Linked DNA regions of Homo sapiens: all the other regions are linked to region 3. The links come from fine-mapping of genetic effects on gene expression. A gene starts in region 3. Each other region holds a variant in brackets. All regions are shown on one strand. Distances are between the middles of the regions. Region 1 has its middle 12 kb from the start of MIR4468. Region 2 has its middle 21 kb from the start of MIR4468. Region 3 holds the start of TRIM24 (tripartite motif containing 24). Region 4 has its middle 100 kb from the start of MIR4468. Region 5 has its middle 71 kb from the start of MIR4468. Region 6 has its middle 59 kb from the start of MIR4468. Region 7 holds the start of LOC124901755 (a long non-coding RNA gene).

Region 1 (4,068 bases), 320 kb after region 3:
TAGTAGGAGACTTCAACATTGCACTTTCAACAATGGATAGATTTTCCAGACAGAAAATCAATAAGAAAACATTGGACTTGAACTATACTTTAGACTAAATGGACCTAACAGACACATACAGAATATTCCATCCAACAGCAGCAGGATACACATTCTTCTGAAGCACACATAAAACATTCTCTAAGATCATATATTAGGCCACAAAACAAGTCTTAACAAATTTCAAAAATTGAAACAATGTGGTCAGGAGTGGTGGCTCCTGTCTGTAATTCTAGCACTTTGGGAGGCTGAGATGGGAGGATCGCATGAAGCCAGGAATTTGAGACCAGCCTGGTCAACGTATCAAGACTCTATTTATGTATATTTTAATGTATTTATTATAAAAATCTATTATATGTATCTATGTATATTTTTGTATATTTTATAAAAATTAAAAAAAATGAAACTATGTCAACTATCTTTTCCAACAACAGTGGTATGAAATTAGAAATAAATAACAGAAGGAAAACTGGAAACTCAGAAATATATGGAAATTAAACATCATACTCCTGAACAACCAATGGGTCAAAGAAGAAATTGAAGGAGAAATTAAAAAAAATATATTGAGACAAACAAAAATGGAAACCCTACATAACAAAATGTATGGAATGCAGTAAAAACAGTTCCAACAAGGAAGTTTATAGCAATAAATACCTACATTAAAAAAGAAGAAGGATCTCAAATAAGTAATCTAACATTATTCCTTAAGGAACTCAAAAAAGAAGAACAAACTAAGCCCAATGTTAGTAGAAGAAACGAAATAATACAGATCAGAGCAGGAAAAAAAAAAGAGAATAGGAAAAGAATAGAAAAGATCAACAAAACTTTTTTGAAGACATAAACAAAATTGACAAACCTTTAGCTAGCCTAAGAACAAAAGAGAGATGACTCAAATAAAATTAGAAACCAAAGAGGAGCCATTACAGCAGATAACACAGAAATACAAAGGATTGGCTGGGCACAGTGGCCCAGGCCAAGGTGGGTGGATCACTTAAGGTCAGGAGTTCGAGATCAGCCTGGCCAACATGGCAAAACCCCGTCTCTGCTAAAAATACAAAAATTATCTGGGCATAGTCGTGTGCGCCTGTTGTCCCAGCTACTCAGGAGGCTAAGGCACAAGAATAATCTGAACCTAAGAGGCAGAGGGTGCAGTGAGCTGAGATCGCGCCACTGCATTCCAGCCTGGGCAATAGGGTGAGACTCTGTCAAAAAAAAAAAAAAAAAAAAAAAAAAAGAAGGAAATACAAGGATCATAGGAGACTACTATGAATAATTATATAACAACAAATTGGATAACCTAGAATAAACAGATAAATTCCTAGAAATATACAACCTGACAAGACTGAATCATGAAGAAATAGAAAATTCGGACAGATCAGTAAGGAGATTAAATATTAAATCACTAATAAGCCAATGTGGTGGCTTATGCCTGTAATCCCAGCACTTGGGAGGCCGAGGTGGGCCGATTACGAGGTCAGGAGTTTGAGACCAGCCGGACCAACATGGTGAAACCCTGTCTCCACTAAAAACATGAAAATTAGCTGGGTGTGGTGGTGGGCACCTGTAATCCTAGCTACTTGGGATGCTGAGGCAGGAGAATTGCTTGAAACTGGAAGGCGGAGGTTGGAGTGAGCAGAGCTTGCACCACTGCACTCCAGCCTGGGCGAAAGAGCGAAACTCCATCTCAAAAAAAAAAAAAAAAAAAA[G/AG]AAAAAGAAAAAAGAAAAAAAAGCCTTAGACCTGATGGCTTCACTGCTGAATTCTACCAACATTTAAGGAAGCATGAGTACTAGTACTTCTCAAACTCCTCAAAAAATTAAAGAGGAAGAAACACTTTCCAACTGGATTTGTGAGGCCAATATTATCCTGACATGAAAGCCAGACAAGAACACTCCAAAAAAAAAAAAAAAAAAAATTACAGCCCAATATTCCTGAGGAACGTAGACGCAAAAATCTTCAACAATAGACTTGCAAACCAAATTCAATTGCATATTAAAAGGATCACTCACCATGATCAACTTGGATTTATGCCTGGGATGCAAAGATGGCTCAACATATGCAAATCAGTAAATGTTATACATTGTATTAACAAAGTGAAGGACAAAAATCATGTCAATAGATGCATAAAAAGCATTTGACAAAATTCAGCATCCTTTAATGATTAAAACTCTGAACAAATTAGTTATAAAAGGAATGTTCCTTAGCACAATAAAGTCCATATATTACCAGCCCACAGCTAACATCATACGCAATGGTGAAAAGATGAATATCTTTTATCTAAGATTGGGAACAAGACAAGGATGTCCACTATTAAGAAATGGGAAACACCAAGTGTTTTTCCTAATCCCACATACCCCTCAGCACAACACTTCTAATGCAAAATGTGTAGGGGCTCTTCACCAGACTTCCAAGCCATTCTCCAGCAGACACCAACTGGGTGTCCTACAACTTAACTCAATTCTGATACCATCTACCTAGAGATAGAGTCAGATCCCACAGGTTAAGGACTCAGCTCCTTGAGACTGCCCCCATTTCAGATGTCAATGGTAAGCCTCAGGTTGTGACCTGTGCTTCTGACCGGTCAGCTCTAAATTGGGGTTCTCAAGACCCCCTCCTTGGGTTCTATTAATTTGCTAGAGTGGCTCACAAAACTCAGGGAAATACTTTACTTACATCTACCTATTTATTACAAAGGATATTTTAAAGAATACAAATGAACAGCCAGATGAAGAGATACATAGGGTGGAGTCTGGAAGGGTCCGGAGCATAGGAGCTTTCATCCCTATGGAGTTGGGGTACACTACCCTTCCAGTATGTAAATGTGTTCACCAACCAGAAAGCTCTCCAAAACCTGTCTCTTTAGGTTTTTGTTGTTGTTGTTATTGTTGTTGTTGTTTTTAGACAGAGTTCCTTCTCTGTTGCCCAGGCTGGAGTGCTGCAGTGTGATCTCAGCTCACTGCAACCTCTGCCTCTTGGGTACAAGCAATTCTGCTGCCTCAGCCTCCCAAGTAGCTGGGACTACAGGCACGCACCACAATGCCCAGCTAATTTTTGTATTTTTAGTAGAGATGGGGTTTCACCATGTTGGCCAGGCTGGTCTTAAACTCCTGACCTTAGGTGATCTGCCTGCCTCAGCCTCCCAAAGTGCTGGGATTACAGGCATGAACCACTGCACCCAGCCATCTTTAGGTTTTTAATGGAGACTTCATTAGGTAGGTATGATTGGCCTTTGATGACCAAATCAGCCTTCAACCCCTCTCCCCTCCCTAGAGGTGGGGGGTGTGGCTGAAAGTTTCAACCCTCCAATCACATGGTTGGCACCCCTGGCAACTATCCTGTGGTTATCTAGGAGTACTCAGTGATCAGCCATCTCATTAGCATACAAAAATACATATCGCTTTGCAGATTTCAAGGATTTTAGCAGCTTTGTGCCTGGAACCAGGGACAGAGACCAAGTATATATATATTTTATTATATCACAATATTACACTCACTCTCACCACTTTTTTTTTCAACATAGTACTGAAGTCCTAGCCAAAGGAATTGGGCAACATAAAGAAATAAAAGTCATCCAAATCAGAAAAGAAGTCAAAATGTCTCTGTTTGCTGATTACAAGATTTTATGTATAGAACAACCTAAAGATTCTACCCAAAAGTGTTAGAATTAATAAATGAATTCAGTTAAGTTTTAGGATACAGCATCTACATATAAAAATCACTTGTGTTTCTATACTTTGGCAATAAACTATCTGAACAAGAAATTTTTTAAAAAGTCACATTTATAATAGCATCAACGGGAATAAAATAATTAGAAATAAATTTAACCAAAAAGGTGAAATATCTGTATACTGAAAACTATGAAACATAATGAATTAATGAATAAAATTGAAGAAGACACAAATAAATAGGTATTTCATGTTTATGGATCAGAAGAATCAATATTGGAAACTTGTCTATATTACTGAAAGTGATCTATAGATTTAATGCAATTCCTATGAAAATGCCAATGTCATTTTTCATGGAAATAGAAAA
Region 2 (4,068 bases), 320 kb after region 3:
CTGTGCGCCCACACTCCTCAGCCCTTGGGTGGTCGATGGCACTGGGCACCGTGGAGCAGGGGGTGGCGCTCGCCGGGGAGGCTCAGGCAGCACAGGAGCCCACAGAGTTGGGGGGAGGCTCAGGCAGGGCGGGCTGCAGGTCCCGAGCCCTGCCCCGCGGGAAGGCAGCTAAGGCCCAGCGAGAAATTGAGCACAGCAGCTGCTGGCCCAGGTGCTAAGCCCCTCACTGCCCGGGGCTGGTGGGGCCAGCTGGCCGCTCCGAGTGAGGGGTCCGCCCAGCCCACGCCCACCCGGAACTCGCGCTGGCCCGCAAGCACCGCGCGCAGCCCCAGTTCCCGCCCGCGCCTCTCCCTCCACACCTCCCAGCAAGCTGAGGGAGCCGGCTCCGGCCTTGGCCAGCCCGGAAAGGGGCTCCCACAGTGCAGCGGCGGGCTGAAGGGCCTCCTCGAGTGCCACCGAAGTGGGAGCCCAGGCAGAGGAGGCGCCTAGAGCGAGCAAGGGCTGTGAGGACTGCCAGCACGCTGTCACCTCTCACCATCACCCCCCCCCGGATGAAACTGTCTAGTTGCAGGAACACAAGCTCAGGGCTCCCACTGATTCTACATTATGGTGAGTTGTGTAATTATTTAATTATATAGTACAATGTAATAATAGAGATAAAGTGCACAATCAATGTAATGTGCTTGAATCATCCCGAAACCATCCTCCACGCCCCCCTCCACCAGCCCCCGCTTCACCCCCGTGCATGGAAACATTGTCTTCTAATAAACCAGTCCCTGGTGCCAAAAAGGTTGCGGACCACTGAATTAAAGAAACAAAGATGGCCGGCGCGGTGGCTCACACCTGTAATGCCAGCACTTCGGAAGACTGACGCGGGCGGATTCACCTGAGTTCAAGACCAGCCTGGCCAACATGGCGAAACCTCGTCTCTACTAAAAATACAAAAATTAGCTGGGCCTGGTGGTGGGCGCCTGTAATTCCAGCTACTCGGGAGGCTGAGGCAGGACAATCGCTTGAACCCGGAAGGCAGAGATTGCAAGGAGCCGAGATCTCGCCACTGCACTCCAGCCTGGGAGACAGACTGAGACTCTATCTCCAAAAAAATAAAAAGAAAAAAAGACATAATTATGAACCACTAGGACCCTTGGGGGAATCATTATTAAAATCTAAGTAATTTTATTATTTCCTTCCAAATATAGCAGCATAATCTCTGTTTCTCTCTGTTTTTCAATTTCCATGTCTCTTATAATAAGACAGTCTCCTGTGTTTACTCCCTTGGGTAGGGCAACACTAAAAGAAAACGGCCCAGATGATTGCAATGTGAATAATGGTATGCTCTGTTGCTGGGGTAGCTACTGCTATGCTACTGCTTAGCTATGTTACAGCTCCGCAGCTGTTACCCCATTAGGTAACAGAAAGACTCAAACCTCATGAGACACTGGAAGGAGATGAGGAATTGCCTCATTACAGCCTCCTTGACAGATAGAAAAGTGAGTGAGAATGGCCCCAAGCATCTCCTCAAAAGCCTCCCATGTGCTCAAGGTTCAGAAGGATGCAGGATGTTTGGCCGAGGCTCAGATTAGCTGCAGTTCAAACTTGGCTCATGTGGTCTATGGATATATGCAAGGTCACCATGAGCCAACAAGGGGCCATTATTTTACATTACGTAAAATCTGTCTTCAGGAGCTTACTCCAAAGGATGTATGTGTGAGGCATTCCAAAGGTGTCTAACACCAGTCTCCAGTTCAAAGAGCATAGAAATAGAGGTGGAAATTGATGGTGCTAATTATCAGGTACAGCTTTGACTGATGACACCTGTGCATAAGGGTCATCCGTTCATGCCACACATCTGTGAAGAATGATCCTAGAATTTTTTGGTTGTGATCAGTGATTTTTTTTTGAAATGGAGTCTTGCTTTGTTGCCCAGGCTGGGGTACAGTGGTGTGTTCTTGGCTCACTGCAACCTCTGCCTCCCAGGTTCAAGTGATTCTCCTGCCTCAGCCTCCCAAGTAGCTAGGATTACGGGCATGCACCACCACACCTGGCTAATTTTTGTATTTTTAGTAGAGACGGGGTTTCACCATGTTGGCCAGGCTGGTCTTGAACTCCTGACCTCAGGTGATCCACACCCCCATCCACCTCCCAGAGTGCTGGGATTACAGGCATGAGCCACTGCGCCTGGCCATGATCAGTGTATTTGGAGCCTTGTTATTTTCTGTTCTGCCTTTTGAACTCTTAGTTGCCCAAGGCCATTTTGGACAAAACTCTGTTGTGATCTTCTTTGCAGTTGGCTGGTGTAATCTATGTGCTGCAATTGTTTCTCAGCTTTCCACAGTTGACTCTGGTGTTTAACATTTCCTTTCAGAGTCTCCTTTCCCAGAAGGCAGGTGGACTTAGCAAGAGGAGATAACTAGTTTTAGGGTTTCCAGGACAATTGTTGG[G/A]CTGTTCATGTCATTGGCTTCTTTGCCTTCCTCAGGGAGATGTTAGGAGGTAATATTTATACATAACACAATCATAGTGTATCTGACCTTACATAACCCAAGAGATCCTTTTAATACTGATATGCCTTCCTGTTTCCTCCTTCCATTGTCTCATCTCTCCCCCATCCCCAGCTTCATCCTGGAAGTAAATGCCAGAATCAGCTTCACTCTTTCCTTTTTATCTCCTGCCTTTTGTGTGATTCTTATTTATTTATTTGTTTGTTTGTTTGTTTGTTTTTTTATTTACTGGAGACAGAGTCTGACTCTGTCACCCAGGCTGGAAGTGCAGCAATGATCGTAGCTCCCTGAAGCCTCAAACTCCTCTGCTCAAGAGATCCTCCTGCCTCGGCCTTCCAAAGCGCTGGGATTATAGGTGTGCGCCATTGAGCCTGGCTTGTGTGGTTCTTTGAAGTCACCCCAGGCAGTGTTTTGCTTCTCTCTCTAGTCTCAATACTTGTGTTACCTGCCCTTTTCAGGTACAGTATTCACTTTGATTAGAAAGAAGTGGATTCCAACCAGAAGAACAAATGTGGCTATTAGTAGATCCTTGGAACTCTGTGTGTATAGCAAGGAATAGCGCTGGTGGAGTGCGAGGTCATTGGTGTAACTTTTTGAAGTGCAGGTCTTTAATGAATTATCTGCTGATTCCCTAAAAGCTTCTGCTTTTTAAATTTTTAATTGACTCCAAGGTTGGAACATGTCTAAAATTGCTCTTGTCTTTGCAGAAGCTGTTCACTGCAAGTGCTTTGGATTGCAGTTTACTCTTATTTTGTTGTCAATCCAATCTCTTGTGCTTTCTGTTTTTGAGAGTTTTAAGTTCACCGATAGTATGCTTTCTTTATTCTAAAGGTGATATGAATTTGGTCTTTAAATTGACTTTCTGCATAGTTATTTTTAAAAATTGGGAACAGGAAGGAAAGTAGATAACCAGCTTAATCTGATGTCTTATTGCTTCCATCTTAATAGCAGTCTGTTATTTATCAGAGCAATTTTCTCTTGGCTTATACTGAAGACATAATTTATAATTTGTAATTTCTGTTTCCTGCATGAACTCATTTTCACTGGGACTCATTTGTCCATGTGCTTCAAATGCAAACATTGAAAGCATGAAATCCATTATCAGTTTAATAATCTGAGAACAGATAAAATACATAAAAATAGGTGAATTATAATGGATGGGCTGTTTACTTTAAGTGCTATAGAAATAAACCTAAAAGGATTAGTTTTCAGTTGTATGCAATGAGCTGAAAGCATGGCATTAGGAACCAGTACCCTTTAGCATCTATCAAGAAAGAGTCTTGTGTTAACAGGCTTCCTCAGCCCCAGTTCTATTGACATTTGAGGCCAGATAATTATTTGCTGTGGGAAGTTATCCTGTGCATTGTAGGATGTTTAACAGTATCCCTATCCTCTACCTATTAGATGCTAATGCCACCTCTGTGTCCCCCACCCTAGTTGTGACAACCAAAAATATGTGTAGACATTGCCAAACGTCCCCTGAGGGAGCGTGGGACAAAATTAACCACAGTTAAAAATCTGGCCAGGCGCAGTGGCTCACGCCTGTAATCCCAGCACTTTGGGAGGCCGA
Region 3 (4,068 bases):
AATGCTTTTCCAGTTACACTGTATTTTTAAAAAGGAGGTGCTCAAATATTTGCAATAATAAAATTTAAAAACCGCCAAGTGTTCTACCCGAAACTGTACTCAAACTTACTTTAAATGTTTCAAACCTGTCAAAGTTAGCAATGGAACACCTGTCAAAAGTCTAATTTTACAGTAATAAACACCACAAAGAGAACAGTAACTTCCAGCTTTATCTATAAAATACCAGAAAACCCAAATCACTTTGTATTATTTCTCTTCGCCGTCTCAAAATAAAACCTTTGAAAGAGACACACAACAAAACAACGTCTCTTGGTTCCTTTGTCCCCAGCAGAGGAGAGGGAAGAGAACTGGGAACTCATTAAGGTAAAGAGCCCCAAACATGCAAGATAAGAAATAAATGACATCCGATCTGCAATCAATCATCAAAGAAAGTCACCATCACTTCATCTTCATCCCTCCCTTCTCCCCTGCAGCTCAAATAACGTGAGTATAGACGAGATGATCAGGATCATATGGACCTGGACAAAGCTTTGTGGAGGCAGCGGGCGGGTAGCAGTTAACTGGCTGCAGCCGGCAAAGAACCCGAGATTCCGGCTGCAGGAGACTCCGACAGAGGTCTGCAAAAGTGCGAGTGGCAGGGGCCGCCCGGCTGTTGAGAATGCGGAGCAGCGGCGGCGGCGGCGGCGCGGTCAAGTCCACAGCGCCCGGGGAAGTTGCTGGCCGAGCGCGACACGCCGCAGAGCGCGGGCCCTCCATGTCACCGTCGCCAGCACAGACCCTCCTGCTCGCCCCTCCCCCGCCGCGCACCCCGGGCGGCGGCGACATGACAGCGGGTCGCGCCGCACAAGGGCGCCCGCCCCCTCCTGGCCCTCTCCCCGGGCTCCCCAGCGGCCGCGGCCGGTTCTCACCTTGGGTGGCGAACGGCGACGAGCCGCTGACCGGCGAGCCGGGGGCAGGGACGGGTGGCGGGGTCTCGGCCGAGCCCAGCATGGGCGCGGGCAGCATGAGGTAGCGCTGGGGCGCGGGCAGGCAGCGCTGGCAGAAAGAGTGCAGGCAGGGCAGCAGCTTGGGCGCCCGGCTCTGGATGTTCTGGTGGCACACGGCGCAAGTGTCCAACAGGTTGAGCCGGGCCGCCTCGCCGCCGCGCTCCGAGTCCGGGCCCTGCCGACTCTCGGCCTCGTTCTCCCCGCTCGGCGCCGCCGAGGGCCCCCCGGAGGCCGCAGCCGAGGCCGCTGCCGCCGCCGCCACCGCCTTCTCCACCGCCACCTCCATTGTCCTGCCCTTGCCGCCGCCGGGGAAGCGAGAGCGCGGTCTCCGCCCGCCGCCCCCGACGACCTCCTCCTCCTCCTGCGGCTGCTCCTCAGAGGCCGCTCGGTGGACTCGCGGCAGCGCCAGCGAGGGAGGGAAAGCAAACCGGGCGGGGGAAGCCTCCTCAGGCCCACGGGATCCGCCTCCCGAGTGGCGCGGCCGGAAGGAGGGTATCTGTCAGCGGAGACCGTTCCTCGCACCGGGGAGGCTGCACCCCGTCCGCTTCGCCAACCGCCGAGGCGCTCGTGGAATACGCCCAGCCCGCCCTTGCCTCCCCGCCTTTCTCTTCATCCCCCTGGCCCACCTCAGGCCCCGCCCCCGCCCCCGCCCTCCCTCTCCCAGCAACTGAGGCTTCGGTGTGGAGCGCGCCGCCCAATAGCGGCCGCGCCTGGCGAGGGGGCGGGACCTGTTGGAGCCCGCGAGGCTCCGTCGGCCGCGGCGGGAGGTTGGGAAGTGGGAGGTGCTTGCCCAGCCCCGCCCCCTCCGGACGCCTGAAATCGCGGCTTCTGATTGGGCCTTTGTGTATGTTTCCTCCTCTGAAAAGATTAAGGGTTCATTTGTTAACGACCATCCGCCTGATTCGGTCCGCGGTGTTAGCTCCTCCTAGGGGGCGGGACCTCACTTGTCTACTCAATGCCGTTAATTAAGTAACTGCTTGGAAAACTGATTTCATTACTGGAGACCTGGTCTTGTAGGAGGAGTAAATATGGTCGGAGGGTCACAGGAGGAAGGAGTGGAGGTACTGAAGAGCAAACAAGGAAATAATTTTTTAAAATACTGTGTGAAAGAGGTACTCTGGAGGCAGCAGGGATATTGCAACCTAATTTTACTCATCTCTAGAATGAATGAGTATGAAGAATAAGGGGGGGAAGTTCTCGTGCAAGTTGGAAATTTTTAAAGGGTTTCCCCAATGAAAAAGGTGAAATTAATTTTTAAAGTCAGTGATTTGCTTTTTAAGTGACTAAAAGTGGTTCGTTTTCCCAGGAATTAATACAGATTGACAAATGTTTTTATTGCATAAATATAGCATCATTAAGCAAAAATAAACCTCAATACTGTTACCCAAATAATTCATAACTTCAGGATTCTTTTGTATTTCCTCCCTCCCTCTTATTTTATTCCCTCCCTCCCTCCCTCACCTCTCTACGCTGATATCAGAAGTTACGCACATTTTTCACTCAAAAAATGGCGCAGCTTTTAAGGAACTTGAAGAATAGAAACGGAATGAAGGAAACAAGATTTTGTAACACGTAACTTTAAGAAGTATTTACCTTTTTTTTTTTTTTTTGTCAATACTAATGAAGCGGTACTGGACTTTAGAGAAAGATGGAGTGGGTCATGAAAGGCTTTGCTAAAATCACAGTTTTCCTGGAGGACTATATGGGATGGCAATGGGGGAGGGCTAGGCAACGTAGCCTTCCTTCAAGACCTTGCCCTTAAACACAACCTCCGTAGGCCTCAAGTGAGAGGTTCTTTTACTTAATCACAAGACATTCAACAGCTCTTCCCGCCTCCCCCACCCATTGGTTCCTGTTTAAGCTTGGGATTTTTTGTTTGTTTGTTTTTTTGCATGGAAGTAGCTCTTAAACCTTAGTTTGCATAAGAATAACTTGAGAAGCTTAGTGAAAAACAGGTGCTTGGGCCACCTCCGTATTCAGTTATTCAATTTTGATAGCATCTCAAGTGATTCTGACCTGGGTGGGTCCAGAAACGGAAGTCTGTCCCACAGGTCTTCACCCACTCACAAATCTCTCCACGATTTCGTCCGTATATGCCTCTCAAGCTGAAGTCGCCGCGACTCTCATGCTTCATGCTGCAGCAATTGTAAGGCCACCCTGCTTTGTACACGCTGTTCCCTTTGTTTTAGTTCCTTCAAAATTCTGACTTATCTGTTATCCCCTAAAGCCACCCCAAAGTTGAACACTCCTTCCCCAGAATTCAAACCATATTGTATATTTTTGAAGCTACACCTTGAAAACATTCACATAATAGGAATGGAATTTTGTATTCAAAAATCAACTCCCTTAATATGCTAAAAATTCATTACATAGGTGGTATACAGGATTCAAGCCTACTAAAGACAAGTCCCTCTTATTCCCCAGATGATGGTGGTAGGGAAGGAAAACTGAGAAGTAAAATTGAATAGGCTGGTTTTGAAAGAATTCCATGTAATTTGATCAAACCCACTAGCTTAAAGTTTTTCAAATCACCATGGTTTTACAGAAAATGATCTTCCATCGTTTTAGCCTTCCTAATTTCACATGAGTAAAACAATCGTACATTGTACTTTGTTCACATATATGGAACTTCAAGTCCAGAAAATGAATTTACTGTTTGTTTTTCTTAATCATATGATTTCTTTATTTGGATATTGTTGCCCTACAAAGCGTGTTCAAATATATTTCACAAAGATCCACACTACCAATAGATTACTCTTCCTTAATTACAGCTCTCATCCTATGTCCCTCCCTTATCCCATAATTTTCTGTGGCTCTCCACTGCATCCAAAGCTCTCCACAATTTTATTCCCATCTGATCTTCTTGTCTGATGTTACTGCTTTCCCATATCCATCCTGTGCTTCCGCCTAATTGGATGATGCGCTGTTTCTTGTTTCTTAACTGCACCACTACCACCACCTATGAGAGAGGAGATCAAAGCTGTCTGAACTGGAAGAGAAGGGCATCAGCAAGGAGAATAAAAGCATCAGATGCTGGCCGGGCGCAGTGGCTCATGCCTGTAATCCCAGCACTTTGGGAGGC
Region 4 (4,068 bases), 230 kb after region 3:
ATGCGTTTTTTGTTTTGTGTTTTGTTTTCTTACATCAGAAATAGATTTATTTTGGTGTCTATTTTGGATTTTGGAGACTACTTTTTTGGTTTTTGTTTTTTTCCAAAATGGAAATCTTTTTTGTTGTTTTTGCTGATTATAAATGTAATTTGTGGTCATGAAAAAGAAAAGAATACCGAAGAATATAAGGTATTTATACAAGAATAAAGTGAAATTGCCCCCAGATAATACCTTTTGGGGATATGTGGTTAAAACAAAACAAAACAAAAAGTAATTGATGTTATTTTCCAGAGCTTATTCCATCCATCCATCCATCCGTCCATCCATCCATCCATCCGTCCATCCATCCATCCATCCATCCATCCATCCATCCATCCATCCATCCATCGATCCATGCCATCTTTCCATATTGAAGAGCAGAGAGTTTGGGAAAGGCAGGAAGGAATGAATTCTTCTCAGAGAGAGGAGGACTCACACACAGTCCGTCATCGCAGCACTGTTCAGGCTGGCCTGGGAGCCGAGGATGGTAGCCCTGTTGTGTGGTGTCTGCAGAGCTGTGTGCTGGGAGTTTGGATCTCCACACTCTCGTTTTAGCCAGGTTTCTAACTCATGTAAGACAATGGGCAAATCATGCAACCTCATCTATGAAATGTGTGTCCTTTGCATGCTAGTACACACTGAATTTTTGTTTGTTTGTTTTGAGACAGGGTCTGGCTCTGTCACCCAGGCTGGAGTGCAGTGGTGCAATCTCAGCTCACTGCAACCTCTGCCTCCCGGGCTCAAACAGTGCTCCTACCTCAGCCTCCTGAGTAGCTGAGACTACAGGTGCACGCCACCATGCCTGGCTAAGAAAGGGATTATTAATTTCTTTTATTTCCTTTTTGTTGTTTGTTTGAGACAGATTCTTGCTCTGTCTCCCAGGCTGGAGTGCAGCAGCATGATCTTGGCTCACTGCAACCTCCACCTCCCAGGTTCAAGCGATTCTCCCTGCCTCAGCCTCCTGAGTAGCTGGCATTATAGGCGTGCGCCACCAGGCCCAGCTAATTTTTTTTTGTATTTTTAGTAGAGCTGGGGTTTCACCATGTTGGTCAGGCTGGTCTCAAACTCCTGACCTCAAGTAATCCGCCCGCCTTGGCCTCCCAGGATGCTGGGATTACAGGAGTGAGCCACTGCGCCCAGCCAGGATCATTAATTTTGGATATTATTTTTATTTACAAGAGCATCTAATTGGTGCAGTACTACAGACCTATGCCCTGAAATACTCTAACCAACATTTGACATGGTGTCTTTTTTCTTTTTTCTTTTTTTCAGTCCCATAATGGCTACTTAGCTCGCTTCCTTCAAGCTAAGCTTAAAATACTTAATGTTACTGAGGAATAGAGGCAAAACAGATGTCTGTGTTAACTCTGAGAAAATGCCTCAAAAATTGATCATGTCTTGTCATTGATAAAATGATAGTAGCACTGGCATCAGTAACACAGACAAGGGTTTGGGAGTGGTTGTCTATGCACACTGAATTTCAAATATGTGGTTCTCAGCAATACAGGGGGTTTTGTATGGAGCTGAATGAACCTTCCATAGTCTGAAAGCCAATCTTTGGGAAACAAATATCCGGTTGCCATGGAGACACTCAAGGTGGATGAAGGATGGATTAATCAAAATACAGTAAATCCTTTTTACGAGCTCCCTAAGAAATCTAGTGTGAAGAGAACCCTCTGCTCTGTCTTCTCTTTTTCTCCCCTCCATCACACAGGAAATCCACCATTGATGTACAATGACACACATTTATTGTACTGAGTTATGTGTATGTGCTAGTGAATGACGCTCTCTCTTGCCTGAAAGATACAGTCAGTCATATCAGCACAAGGGTACCCAAACATTATTTTTACAACCGTTTTTGAAATTTAAGAAAAAAAATCATATATTCTTTGCAACGAAAAGAAAAAAGAATAGTTAGAAACAACTGCTGAATAAAAATTGTGATTATTTATTAACTGAGCTACATTCTCTGGGGCATAAAGGATATGAAATCACTTGCACTGAGATGGTAGCTGCATTCAG[G/C]CTGAGTCTCAGTGCACAACTAATCTGATCATTTCAACTGTTCAATTTAGTCAAAAAACAAGTCATCTCAGTCACAGTATCAGTTAAATAAATAAATGAATGCATCTAAATAAATTATTCAGTTGAATAAATTAAGTGAATAAATAAATTAAATGGCTATTCCTCTCCTTCCTAACAAACTGACGGGTCAAATTAATCAAAATAGTTAATCCAGTTGTGGAAGACATTTCCAGAAGCCTCCAGTAAATCATTCTTGGGCAGCCAATTCAATTTTAACTCCTGGTCTTGAATAGCCATGGACTCAGGCTGCCTGGATGAGCTAGCGTACAGAATCAAGCGGATGTGAGTAGGTTTTGGACACCCTCCAAGGACAGATAAAGGCTCACAGTGAGGATGTTGGTTACTGCAGGCAAGGGGCCTACAGGAAGTCCAGGAGGACCAAACAGAGGCCACAGGCAGGAGGTTTTCAGGGCCTACACTCGTGTTCTCACAGGCTGAGGGAAACACAGAGGATGGGAATTCCACAGGAGTTCAGCATAGAGCGGAACAGTGGTTCTCAACTGGGGCTGATTTTGTTATCATTGGGGAAAGGTGTGTGTGTGGTTGCTACTTGCATCAAGTTAATGGATTCTAAGTAGCACAAAATGCTGCTAAACATGCTACAATGCACAGGCAGCCTCCTGCAATAAAGAAAAATGTCAATAGCGCTGAGAATGAGAAATCCTGGAGGAGGAGAATAATAGTTAATTTTTTTTTTTTTTTTTTTTTTTTTGAGACAGTCTCACTCTGTCGCCCAGGCTGGAGTGCAGTGGCACCGTGTCAGCTCACTGCAACCTCTGTCTCCTGGGTTCAAGCAATCCTCCTGCCTCAGCCTCCCAAGTAGCTGGGATTACAGGCGCCCACCACCACACTCAGCTAATTTTTGTATTTTTTAGTAGAGATGGGGTTTCACCACGTTGGCCAGGCTGGTCTTGATCTCCTGACCTCGTGATCCACCCACCTCAGCTTCCCAAAGTGCTGGTATTACAGGCATGAGCCACCGTGCCTGGCCCTAGTTAATTATTTCTAAGTAGCATTTTAGATTGAGCACCAATTCATAGATTTACTAACAGAACAGAGGGTTATAACCTCTGATCTCAGCTATAAGAAATCAGCTCCCAGTTTGGAATCTGAAGCCCTGGGTCTCGACCTGAGCCTTGCTTTTTATTATGACTGGCAAGACGGCAGCCTCTTTGAGCTCAGCTACTTAATTTGTTACATAGTGATAGTAATAGCTGCCTACCTTATAGTAAATGCTATAACAGATATGAAAACATGGAACAGTATCAGTGGTCCTAAAATAATGATTGGAAATTAACAAGCCTGGATTATCTTATCCATATGGTGTTTTTTTGTTTGTTTGTTTGTTTTCTTCTTGAGGCAAAATGGCTTACTTCTGACCAGTGGTGACATTAAGAAGAACAAAAAGAATTGATTTGGAATTGATCACTCATTTTGGATCTTCATTTGTAAAATGCCCATTTATTGCTTGAGTTGGGGGCTACCAGGTGTGAGGATGCAAGTTTGAAGAAGGTATATTTCTTTGCACTAGGAAAAAAAATAGAATAGGTAGAGAAAGAATTGGGGAGGGCCAAGGGGGAAGCAATGTAGCTAAGACAACAATCATGATAAACGAAGGATGTAAGTTTTGCTGTGAGAGATACAGTGTAACTCTCTCTTCAATCTCACTGTAAAGTCTTTAGTAAAATCTTCTTCACTCCACTATGCCTTATGAGTTCATACTGGTTTTATATCATTTTGTTTTTTATACAATCAAGTACTGAGTCCTGCTTTGCTGTGAATATGCGGGGCTACCACTAGCCCATGTTAAGGAACATTATCGAAAACTTGGACCTAAGGCGAAAGGTGATTAATGTCATGCTAAGAACATTTCTAGCAAGCCCACCCAAGGACCATCTGACTCAGGAAATTTAAGCTTGTTGGCATAATTCATTAGAACCCAGAGAC
Region 5 (4,068 bases), 260 kb after region 3:
GCTGAAGAACTTGGAGTCTGATGTTTAAGGGCAGGAAGCATCCAGCATGGGAGAAAGATGTAGACTGGGAGGCTAAACCAGTCTAGTCTTTCCACATTCTTCTGCCTGCTTTTATTCTGGCCACACTGGCAGCTGATTAGATTGTGCTCGCCCAGATTGAGGGTGAGTCTGCCTTTCCCAGACAACCGACTCAAATGTTAATCTCCTTTGGCAACACCCTCACAGACACACCCAGGAGCAGTACTTTGCGTCCTTCAATCCAATCAAGTTGACACAATATTAACCATTATGGGGCATTTCAGCAACACCATCAACCCCCATAGATACACCACCAGATTTTTAACTCCCCCTCACTTTTTTGCTATACAGATTGGCATGACTGTTTCTTCTTCTGCTGCTTCTGCTTCTGCTTCTGCTTCTGCTTCTGCTTCTGCTTCTGCTTCTGCTTCTGCTTCTGCTTCTGCTTCTCCTTCTCCTTCTCCTTCTTCTTGACAGAATCTTGCTCTGTCGCCCAGGCTGGAGTGCAGTGGTGCGATCTCACTGCAACCTCCACCTCCTGAATTCAAACAATTCTCCTGCCTCAGCCTCCCAAGTAGCTGGGATTACAGGTGTGCACCACCACGCCCAGCTAATTTTTGTATTTTTAGTAGAGATGGGGTTTCACCATGTTGGCCAGGCTAGTCTCCAACTCCTGACCTGGTCATCCACCCACCTTGGCCTCTCAAAGTGCTGGGATTACAGGTGTTATCCTCCATGCCCAGCCAGCATGACCGTTTTAAACATTTTTAACACTGAGGAATGGAATACATATGTAGAAAAGGGAATAAAACGGCTGAGCGCTGTGGCTCACGCCTGTAATCCCAGCACTCTGGGAGGCCGAGTTGGGTGGATCACCTGAGGTCAGGAGTTCGAGACCAGCCTGATCAACATGGTGAAACCCCGTCTCTACTAAAAACACAAAAAATTAGCCGGGTGTGGTGGTGAACGCCTGTACCAGCTACTTGGGAGGCTGAGGCAGGAGAATCTCTTGAACCCAGGGAGGTGGAGGTTGTAGTGAGCCAAGATCATGCCATTGCACTCCAGCCTAGGCAACAAGAGCAAAATTCCATCTCAAAGAAAAAAAAAAGGGAATAAAACATAATTTTGCTAGCTTGGGGTCCTTCGAGAAGCAGAGGCCAAGAAGGGATTAAATGTGCAATGATTTTATAAAGAGAAATACCTTTGGGAAAGTAAATAGAGAGGGAATCGGAGAGGCTTTGGGGAAAGGCTAGGACAGCAATTGTTCCCCTGCAAGTCTGACCCAGGGTGAAAGAGAGAGAGATAGATTTGTCCTAAATTGACTTGAAGTCTAGGGAAGGTTTGGCAAAGCTATTGGGGAGCCCCTCAGCTGAAGTTTGTGGTTGCAAGCCTCCTGTATCTCCTAGGATCTGTTCTGCCCTGCTCTACCTGTCAATCTCAGCCATGAGTGGAGCAGCCTCAGGGCCAATCCTATTGTTGTGGGTGGGGTTGGCCTTACCACAATGCTGCAGTGGGGTTCTGAATGCATCTACGCCTTCAGTCAAGTAATACTCCTTGTAATAGGAGGGCTGGGTGGTGCATTCTCGTAGGCTCCACAGTAAATGTTCAGTACAGTAAATATTTATAAGGCAAACACTTGTCTGATTATCAGCTAGATTAAGACAGGAAATTTCATAATATCCCTGTGTTTTGAAACAACATCTGGCTCAAACTCCTCCTTTTCCATGGAGGAACCACAATTCTGCTTTTTATGAATGTTGGTCACTTCTTTTGGTCACTTGCCATTCTTTGGTGTTTTGCCAATTATGTATGTATTCCTAAACAATAGTTTAGTTTTGCTTATTTTTGAACTTCATATAAATGGAATTAGCATGTATGCTTTTGTGTCTTGCATTTTTGCATGATATTAACTTTAAGATTCATTTATATTATCGTGCGTATCTCTAGTCTGTTTACTTTTATTGCTGTGTGTATTTCATTGTGTGAACATCTCACAATTTATCCATTCCAATGTTTTTCCTGCACGGGCTATTGCAAACAATGTTGAGTATATAAGACCATCAGGATACATGTACGATGTCAAATGTTTTTGTGAGAGAAAGGTCCAAAGGCAGCCAGTGTTCCCAAGAAGAAGAAGAACGCTGTGCTTGGTACAGGAGGTGCTGACCAGCTCACTAAGCAAATTGCATGCAAGAGCTCAGAGCGCACCGGACTGTACCTGTTCCCTCTTTACTGAGCACAAGTAAACCTTTCTCAAAACTGCTTAACAGGCTGGGCGTGGTGGCTCATCTCTGTAATCCCAGCACTTCCGGAGGCAGAGGAGGGTGGATCACCTGAG[A/G]TCAGGAGTTGGAGACCAGCCTGGCCGACATGGTGAAACCCTATCTCTACTAAAAATACAAAAATTAGCTGGGCATGGTGGTGGGTGCCTGTAATCCCAGCTACTCAGGAAGCAGAGTCAGGAGAATTGCTCGAACCTGGGAGGCAGAGGTTGCAGTGAGCCAAGATCATGCCATTGCACTCCAGCCTGGGCGACAGGAACAAAACTCCATCTCAAAAACAAACAAACAAACAAAACAAATAAAAAACAGACTACTTAGCCATGCATGTGTCAGGCATGCCTCCAGCTTTTTGTATTTCAGACCTCATGGGGCAAGGGTCTGGGCCCAGCATACTACAGCCCAAAAAGGGCTGTGTGTGGCCATGCTGCCTGGATTGGATATGAAGTGTATCTGCTGGTTGTGGGGACCGATATCTTGCAAGGGACTGGATTTTGTGTTCTCACTCGTCTTGCTGTAAATAGATGCTTGACCCTGGTGTGCATGTTGTCTGTTCTCAGTGACCTTGACTCATGCTCTGGTCTTCTCTTCCCTGGGCAGCACTTACCTGCTTCTTGACCTTGGCCACACTCATGTCATATTTTATCCCGTGGCACCATCTGACCACCTGGTAAAACAGTTCCTGTATAAATATCCTGGTGCAGATGCACATAATTTTCTCAGGGAATATGTCCCTGGGTCACTACATGGATCTCTGCTATTTACATATTTATTTTTCACTCTAGTAGTTAAATATGAAGAGCTTAGCATGATGTTGGTGGGTTTTTGACACAGAATTAAACAAGTAGAAAAAAATTTAATTTTCTTCCTTTAAAACCTCGAACATAAAAGAGAAAAAGGATTAAGATTCATAACAGTCGATGAGAGAAAGAGGGAAGTGTAGTGGAGAGTGGTGAACGAGTAGGTTGGAGACCTGTGTGCTTACTCAGGGTGACCCTGGTGTGTCCCTGGACCTCAGTATCTTCATCTCTTAAGTCCCCTTCCGGTTTAAACATTCTAAGATTGAGATAAGATAACTAGCAGCAATTTCTATCCCTTTCAACCTTATTCTAAAGGTATCCTAATCAGTTCTTTTGAACGTTAATTTTTTTTTTTTTTTAAGGGAGTCTCATTCTGTCACCCAGTCTGGAGTGCAGTGGTGCGATTTTGGCTTACTGCAACCTCCGCCTCCCAGGTTCAAGCAATTCTCCTGCTTCAGCCTCCCAGGTAGCTGTGACTATAGGCGCTCGCCACCATGTCTGGCTAAGTTTTGTATTTTTAGTAGAGATGGGGTTTCACCATGTTGGCCAGGCTGGTCTTGAACTCCTGACCTCAAGTGATCAGCCTGCCTCGGCCTCGCAAAGTACTGGAATTATAGGTGTGAGCTACTGTGCCCGGCCTTGCATATTAGAATTTTTAAATGCTTGTCATTGTGCAGCTCATGTGCTCCTTGGGTGTGGACGTGGTCTCTCCTTTGTGAATTGACAGCTGAGGATACTGGCATTCACGCAGCCCCAGGAAAAGCCCAGGGAAAGAGAATGGTGATCCTATTAGTTTGAAGATGGCAGCACAGAACAATTCTTTGGTGCAGTGGAAGATTAAGAAGCACACAAGGATAGTTTGAGCTTAGGAGTTTGCAGCTGCAGTGTGCCATGATCACGTCTGTGAATAGCCACTGCACTCTAGCCTGGGCAACATAGCCAGGCCCCTCTCTCTAAAAAAAAAAGACATACAC
Region 6 (4,068 bases), 280 kb after region 3:
ATCTCGGCTCACTGCAAGCTCTGCCTCCTGGGTTCACGCCATTCTCCTGCCTCCGCCTCCTGAGTAGCTGGGACTACAGGTGCCCACCACCATCCTGGCTAATTTTTTGTATTTTTAGTAGAGACAGGGTTTCACCGTGTTAGCCAGGATGGTCTTGATATCCTGACCTTGTGATCCGCCCGTCAGTGCTGGGATTACAGGTGTGAGGTCCCCCCACCATGCCCAGCCTAATTTTTTAAAAAAATACATATTTTTGAGACAAGGTCTCACTCTTTTGCCTATGCTGGAGTGCAGTGGCATGATCATGGCTCACTGCAGCCTTAAACTGTTAAGTTCAAGTGACCTTCTTGTCTCAGCCTCCCTAGTAGCTGGGACTACAGGCATGTGTCACCACTCAGCTATTTTAAATTTTTAAATTTTTTGTGGAGATGGAATCTCACTACGTTGCCCAAGCTAGGCTTGAACTTCAGTTCCCAAGTGATCCTTCCGCCTCAGTCTCCTGAAGCGCTGGGATTACAGGCATGAGCCACTGAGTTTGTCTAATGCTATTTCTTGACTTCAGTTTTAGCTATTATTTATTGTCATCCCCCTATTGTGGAAAAAGACGCTTTGGCTCTTTTTACCATAATACCTTTGTCTTCTTTCTCTAGTCTCAATACTATTATTTAGTTTCCAAACTCATTGTCAGAAGTATAGATCTTTTCTCAATACATTCGCGCACACACACATACACGCACACACACATACACACACACACACACACACACAGAGAAATTGGTGAGAAAAAGTGACCTGATAGAATAAGAGTGGAGGACATGAAAAGACATTTCACAAAAAAGAAATACAAATGTTAAAACATTTATGAAAAGACGTTAAATCCAATTCATAATTAGATGAATGCAAATTAAACTGAATATACCATTTTTCACTTCTCAGATTAGCATAATCTGAAAGTTTTACAATGCATTCTTGGCAAAGCTGCAGAGAAACAGGCTCTTTCATACACTGCTGTTGTGATTGCACGTGTTATAAAGAATCTCTATGTAGGGCAATTTGGCAATATCCCCCAAATTACAAATGCATTTATTCTGTGACCTGAAACTCCTACTGATGAGCATTTATCCTTGAGATATACATATATAACGTCAGGAGTATATCAAATTATTTGTCACATTAAGGAACATTAAAAAGAAAATAGTAGGCCGGGCGCGGTGGCTCACGCCTGTAATCCCAGCACTTTGGGAGGCCGAGGTGGGTGGATCATGAGGTCAGGAGATCGAGACCATCCTGGCTAACACAGTGAAACCCTGTCTCCACTAAAAATACAAAAAATTAGCCAGGCGTGGTGCTGGCGCCTGTAGTCCCAGCTACTTAGGTGGCTGAGGCCGGAGAATGGCGTAAACCCGGGAGGCGGAGCTTGCAGTGAGCCGAGATTGCGCCACTGCACTCCAGTCTGGGTGACAGAGCGAGACTCCGGCTCAAAAAACAAACAAACAAACAACAAAGAAAATAGTAAATAATGATGTGTGTGTGGAAGATGGTGGTCAGGATGGACGGAGACATGGATGAAAACAGATATTTTATGTTTCTAAAAACTATATGAATGTACTGCCTATTGTAATTCATACATAATGCATTCGTATGCAAATGAAGAATCTGTTAAAATAAAAGTTGATAAATGGCAATTACTCTTCTCTCTCTCTCTCTCTCCATACCCATCCATCCATCCATCCATCCCTCCATCCAGTTTGAGACACTGCTGATATTTGTTCTGGATTTCATGTCCTCCTTCCTCCCTCTCCATTCTGGGTGAATTCTCTTCTAGTCTTGTTTTATAGTTGTTGTTTTAAAGAGTCTGCCCAGGTACAGTGTCTCATACCTGTAATCCTAGTGCTTTGGGAGTCCAAGGCGGGAGGATCGCTTGAGGCCAGGAGTTCAAGTACAGTCTGAACAACATAGTGAGTCCATGTCTCTACAAAAAAAATATAAAATTTAGCTTTGTGGTGTGTGCCTGTAATCCTAGCTACTCAG[G/A]AGGCTGAGGTGGGAAGATTGCTTGATCCCAGGAGTTTGAGGCTGCAGTGAGCTATGATCACACCATTGCATTCCAGACTCCAGCCTCGGTGACGGAGAAAGGTCTCCTAACCGCCATTTTCAGAATTTCCATTGTCTCTCCTCTGTGCTAGACTCTCTATTTATTAAATCCTATGTCTTATTTTCCTTAGTATTCTCCCTTGTTTGGGTAGAGACTGTGTTCCAGTGCTTATAGAGATTTGGCGTGTAAAGAAAAAAGTTTGTATTCTGTCCTCACATTGGATTAATATTTTTTTTTGTCAGTAGGCTGCAAATGATTTCTGCTATGAATTCTGAAGTCATTGCTTCATCGGTTTCTAGATTTCAGTGTTCCCACTGAAATCTGATGCCAGCCTGATTCCTGATTCTTTGTACTCGATGTGTTTTTTTTACCCTTCTCTGCAAGTTCTAAGGGTCTTCTTTTTGTCTCTGGTATTCTGAAACGTCATTGCAATGAGCCTTGGTGTAGTTTCCCTCTCATTTGTAGTCTTGTTTCTAGGGGACTCCTTTTGATCTGGAAATTGGCTTTCCTTAGTTGGAAACAATTGTTGCTGTTATGTCTAGCATCACTTTCTCATGTTAAAACTTAGTTTCCTTTCTCTGGAATTCCTATTACTTGGCTTAAATCCTAAATTGATCTTTTAATATTTGTTATTTGTTCTGTGTTCATATCTTTGCCTTTTGCTCTACAGTATGGGAGATTTCCATGGCATTATGTTTCAACCTTTCTATTGAAGTATTTACTTCCACTTCCATATTTTTAATTTCTAAGAGCTTTCTGAATGTTTCTTTTTATACCTTCTGGGAAGAAAAGGATTAGCAGCTGGTTTGTAACTTACTCGACTTGACTTGGAAATGCCAGGAAAAAAAAAAAAAAATAGAAAGGACCAAGTCAAATCTTGCAAACTAGCTAATGGGATAGCATCTACAAGCAGAAAGAGGTCTCATTTCTGGAATGATTTTACCAGGATGTACCGGGTCTGGCTAGGTTGCTCTTGCTGTGCAATTCTGGAATCCATGCATACATGGAGGCATGGCCCACTCGAAAATGTCAGTGTCTGCTATGTAATTGTCAGAGTATAAAAAGAAGATTTTTGTCAATAAAATAGCTCTATTTGTGTAATGGATGTCTTATATATACTACTTAGAACCTTACATGTTAACTCTGGACTACAGAATGTTATAAAGTGGCAAGGAAGGACTGGGGATCCGCAGTGGTCATTTCAGACTTTTCCAGGTTTTGCCTACATGTCATGATCACCTGTATCCTTTGAATAATTAGGTTTTCTGTTGGTTTATTTGTTTTGAGACAGAGTCTAGATCTGTTGCCCAGGCTTGAGTGTATGGCACAAACATGGCCCATTACAGCCTCGACCTCCCTGGCTCAAGTGACCCTCCCATCTCAGCCTTCTGAGTAGCTGGGACCATAGGCACATGCCACCACACCTGGCCAATTTATTTTTATTTTTTGTAGAGATGAAATTTCACTATATTGCCCAGACTGGTCTTGAACTCCTGGGCTCAAGTGATCCTCCTGCCTGGGCCTCCTAAAGTCCTGGGATTACAGGCATGAGCCACTGCACCTGGCCTAATTAGTAAATTTTGATACTGGCTAAGATCTCTGATTCTTATGAGTTTGATTTGATAATCTCATCCTTGGGGTTACCTCAGCATCCCATTTCATAGATTCAATATCTTCTCTTTTCTCTTTGAGGATATCAATTACGGTTTTAATTTCTTATTTAATTTTTATTGTTTTAGAGATGAGCCTTACTCGGTTGTCCAGGTTGGAGTCCAGTGACATGATCATAACTCACTGTAGCTTCAAACTCTCAGCCTCAGGCCATCCTCCCATCTCACCTTGCTGATTAGTTGGGATAACAGGCGTAAGCCACTACAGCTACCCTCAATTATGTTTTTAAAGTCATTTTTCACCGGCATTGTCTCTTTTTCCATCCAATTCCTTCTCTCTTTGTGTTTGTTGGGATCTCTTTGATG
Region 7 (4,068 bases), 110 kb before region 3:
TATTAGTAACACTTAGTAAGTTTTAGATCTTATTGAGCCCTGGCAGGCATTTTACATATTATTATGTTATTGAGTCTTATGAAGTAGGTATTATTACCTTTGTTTTGCAAATTAGGAAACTAAAAGTTTGAAAACATAATTTGAAAAAAGTCACACAGCTAACACCAAGCAGCACACCAAGGCTTTAATCCAAATCTAGTCTGCCATATCATTACCAAAACATGTTCGGGTGCTTAGCTGGCTGTTAAGATACTGAGTAATTACAACTTAGAGGATGAGTCTCCATAGAAGAAAACATTTTCTGTTTTTTGTTTGTTTGTTTGTTTGTTTTTTGAGATGGAGTCTTGTTCCGATCTTGGCTCACTGCAACCTCTGCCTCCTGGGTTCAAGTGATTCTCCTGCCTCAGCCTCCCAAGTGGCTGGAATTACAGGAATGCCCCACCACACCTGGCTAATTTTTGTATTTTTAGTAGAGATGGGGTTTTGCCATGTTGGTCAGGCTGGTTTCGAACTCCTGACCTCAAGTGATCAGCCCACCTCAGCCTCCCAAAGTCCTGGGATTACAGGCTTGAGCCACTGTGCCTGGCCAGAAAACATATTTTCAAAGCAAAGTCTCCAAGAACAACCCTGGTTGATTACAGGAAGGCTGGGTGAAGGAATCACAAATGAGGCTGAAGCAGAAATAAAAAAGAGAAAAACAAGTTTCCCTGTACTTAGCTGACTCACTCCAAGGCCAGCAATATGCAGGGCCCTGGCAAAGCTTTGATAAAACTATCTGGAAAGCCAGAGCCCAAAGGAAGGAGCTCCAGAGACTCTCCCAACACCCCCTCAGAGCAAGCTTAAGCAAATCAAATTCCTTTACTATCTCCTCATCCCCCTTACCATTACTCAATTTCCAAGTTTTGTAAGTTCCTGTTTTTCCTTCAATGCAGCTGCAAGGTCACAAGCTATGCTAAGGATTATGAAACCTGTCACTGATTAACTGCCTTTGTTCTGCTTCTGTAAGCCTGCTTGCCTACACCATGAATTTCATGCCATTAGATTCCCACCACGCCATTTAAACTAGCCAACCCCCTTTCAGAAGTGTGTATAAAAGTCAAGCCCTGTCTTTGTTCAGGGCCTAGCCTTTGGATGTGAATCCGTTGGGCCAGTGGCCACTTAAATAAAATCCTCCTCTTCTACCTATTGGTCTCTCCAGTCCTCTGATTCCTGAAACATTTTCTGGGGGCTCGCCCGGGATTGGAGACGAAAGGTTTACTGTCTCTTCGCCTGTGAGACTGGAGCCCCAGGCCGGGAGAGACCTGTGACCCCAGGCGCCACTGGGAGAACTTCAACCCAGAGGGGTGATCAGCTCTCCCTTGACCCTACCTGACAGCACAATGGAACCTAAGCAGGAACAGGATGATTCCAGGAACAGTGCACTACAGGATTGTGGTAAGGTTTGAGCCCGAGGCAGGACCTGTCCCATAAGAATGGAAGGGGAGCCTGATCACCTCCCGGGGTGTAACTAGTGGTCAAACACAGGACGTGAGAGTGGCTTGCAAAGTCAGGGAAGCTCACAAGCTCACACCCCAACCAACCCAGGACATGAGAGTGGCTTGCAGAGTCAGTTGAGAAAGAGGAACTGGGAGCGGGGAAGTGTGTGAGTGCATGTGAAAGAGGCGGTTCCAGGAGGAACCAATGCGGGGAGTGATGTGTGGGGGC[C/T]GCAGTTCTCTTAGCGTAGACCATACACTCTGAGAGAACCATGGGACTGACCGGGACTAACAGTGTTCCACATATGGCTTAGGGAGGTGCCCCACAATTTAGTAATTGTGGGGGTCAAAACAGAGCCTCCAATGCTAAGTGGCATCTGAAATACTCCTGCGAGGGGGACGGTCTAATCGGTCCGAAGTGAAAGTGAGAGTGAGTGTGTTGCGCTGTAACTGGGAGGAAATGAGAGGGAAGTCGTCAAAACCCACCCCATTACAATGTATGTTAAAGAATTTTAAGAAAGGTTATGCAGGGGATTACGGGATGAAGTTGACCCCTCAGAGGTTGAGAACTCTGTGAAATAGAATGGCCCTCTTTTAGTGTCGGATGGCCAGCCAAAGGAACCACAGATAGGGAAACAATTGGCCATGTATTTAAGGTGGTGATTGGGGTCGAAGGACAGCCAGGGCACCCAGACCAATTCCCTTATATTGACTCATGGCTAAATGTAGTTCAAACTTGACCTGCATGGTTGCAGCCCTGCCTGGCAGCTTACTGCAAAATGCTTGTGGCTCAGACCGAGCCTAAAGTGAAAGTAAAATCAGCTTTGCTGGCAAATACGGAGACAAAGAAAAAGTCATGGGAAGGGCAAGAGAAACCAGTTTTGCAGGAACTGCCAGAGGAGATAGAAATTCCTCTTCCATATATTCCAATCTACCCCCATTTACTGAGGCCAACGGCCCCCAAGGAGTCAGATTCAGATGGTAACATGCTCCAAGACTCACCCCAAAAGGAAAGATCGGAGCCCCAGGAGGTCAGGGAAGAAAGATAAGATGATCAAGTGGGCTGCCTCCAATCTGGTCATGCTTGGGCTATGCAAATGCCTCTTAGGGAGACACGGGGACCCATCTATTATGATGAACAGGGTCAAGTCCAAGGGGGGCAACGGAACTTCATCTACCAGCCTTTTACAACCACTGATCTCCTAAACTGGAAACACCATACCCCCTCCTACATGGAGAAGACCCAGGCCCTCATAGATTTAATGCAATCCATCTTCCAGACACACAATCCTACGTGGCCAGACTGTAGGCAGCTCCTCTTGACACTGTTTAACACTGAGGAGTGCTGGAGGGTAATCCAGGCAGCTCTCTGCTGCCTAGAAGCCAGTGCACCTGAAGGCACACTTAACGTTCAGGCATACACTCAGGGCCAGTTTCCAGAAGCAGACCCCCACTGGGATTCAAATCATGCAGTCCAATTACAGTACCTACAGAGGTACCGAGAAGCACTCTTGCAAGGGCTAAAGGAAGGCAGGAAAAAGGCAATCAATATAGGAAATATCTCAGAAGTTCTTCAAGGAGCTGATGAGAGCCCTAGCCAGTTTTATGAGAGACTCTGTGAGGCATTCCAGCTTTACACTCCGTTTGACCCTGAGGCCTCTGAAAATCAGTGCACAGTGAACACGGCATTTGCAGGACAAGCCCAGGGTGACATCAGGTGGAAGATGCAAAAGCTAAAAAATTTCGCAGGCATGAATGCCACCCAACTTATAGGAGTGGCCACCAAGATGTATATTAACCGTGACCAAGAGGCAAAAAAGGAAGCAGATCGGAGGCTTAGGAAAAAGGCCAATATGTTAGCAGTGACCCTTACGGTAAGGGAAACTAGCATTGCAAGAGGGTGCGGATGTGGACACGGGCACAGACGGAGATGGGGCCAAACCAGACAGAGGCTCAAAAGCCGGCTGAGGTTAGATAAGCACCAATGTGCATGATGCTAAAAGGGACACTGGAAAAAATCAGTGTCCAGAGGGCAGTGAAGAAAATGGCGGAGGCTATGAAACAAAAATGCCACCAGTCAAAGGCTGCTGCACCCTGAAGGAACCAGATACCGACCTGATCGGGGTGGCAGGGACTGAAGAATATAAGGACAAGGACAGACCAGGCTCCTTCTCCTTAGGCCCCCAGGAGCCCATGGTCACATTAGAAGTGGGGGGCCAGCTAATGGACTTTATGGTGGACAATGGGGCTGAATAGCTGGTAGTAACCCGATCCATAGGACCACTATCCAAAAACTATACAACTATTGTAGGGGTCACCAGGGTCTCAGAGAAGAGGCCACTTTGTTGGCCAAGGAGGTTCGTTATAGGAGGACAAGAGGTCCAACATGAATTCCTGTACCTCCCAAATTGCCCAGTTCCCCTGCTGGGGAGAGACCTACTCTGAAAACTGCAAGCACAGATTGCTTTTGGGCTACAAGGGGATATGACTCTAAACCTGACTGACCCAAAGGCCATGGTGTTAACCCTTACCGTCCTGCAAACTGAGGAATGGAGGCTATACACAAAAAAGCCACCAGAACTGTCTCACAAACCAG

Evidence for each region.
Region 1: its variant is fine-mapped to the expression of TRIM24 in whole blood (INTERVAL, PIP above 0.99).
Region 2: its variant is fine-mapped to the expression of TRIM24 in whole blood (INTERVAL, PIP above 0.99).
Region 4: its variant is fine-mapped to the expression of TRIM24 in whole blood (INTERVAL, PIP above 0.99).
Region 5: its variant is fine-mapped to the expression of TRIM24 in whole blood (TOPMed, PIP above 0.99).
Region 6: its variant is fine-mapped to the expression of TRIM24 in whole blood (TOPMed, PIP above 0.99).
Region 7: its variant is fine-mapped to the expression of TRIM24 in whole blood (TOPMed, PIP above 0.99).

The regions. Positions count from the first base shown.
Region 1 is chr7:138,133,608-138,137,675 of GRCh38, reverse strand. No RefSeq gene overlaps it. Among named protein-coding and RNA genes, the nearest start is that of MIR4468, 12 kb to the right of the region's middle. The variant G/AG (reference allele first, on the strand shown) is at 1,746.
Region 2 is chr7:138,142,448-138,146,515 of GRCh38, reverse strand. No RefSeq gene overlaps it. Among named protein-coding and RNA genes, the nearest start is that of MIR4468, 21 kb to the right of the region's middle. The variant G/A (reference allele first, on the strand shown) is at 2,442.
Region 3 is chr7:138,457,753-138,461,820 of GRCh38, reverse strand. TRIM24 (tripartite motif containing 24) reads right to left here and starts at 1,562. Exons shown (of 19, transcript NM_015905.3): 1 at 909-1,562. The coding sequence starts at 1,272. RefSeq lists silencers at 691-1,170, 1,201-1,450, 1,511-1,900 and enhancers at 1,411-2,193, 2,597-3,107.
Region 4 is chr7:138,224,603-138,228,670 of GRCh38, reverse strand. No RefSeq gene overlaps it. Among named protein-coding and RNA genes, the nearest start is that of MIR4468, 100 kb to the right of the region's middle. The variant G/C (reference allele first, on the strand shown) is at 2,062.
Region 5 is chr7:138,192,923-138,196,990 of GRCh38, reverse strand. No RefSeq gene overlaps it. Among named protein-coding and RNA genes, the nearest start is that of MIR4468, 71 kb to the right of the region's middle. The variant A/G (reference allele first, on the strand shown) is at 2,357.
Region 6 is chr7:138,180,735-138,184,802 of GRCh38, reverse strand. No RefSeq gene overlaps it. Among named protein-coding and RNA genes, the nearest start is that of MIR4468, 59 kb to the right of the region's middle. The variant G/A (reference allele first, on the strand shown) is at 2,032.
Region 7 is chr7:138,562,754-138,566,821 of GRCh38, reverse strand. All of the region lies in intron 9 of TRIM24 (tripartite motif containing 24), which reads right to left. It overlaps LOC124901755 (a long non-coding RNA gene), which reads left to right and starts at 1,119. Exons shown (of 2, transcript XR_007060556.1): 1 at 1,119-1,434. The variant C/T (reference allele first, on the strand shown) is at 1,705.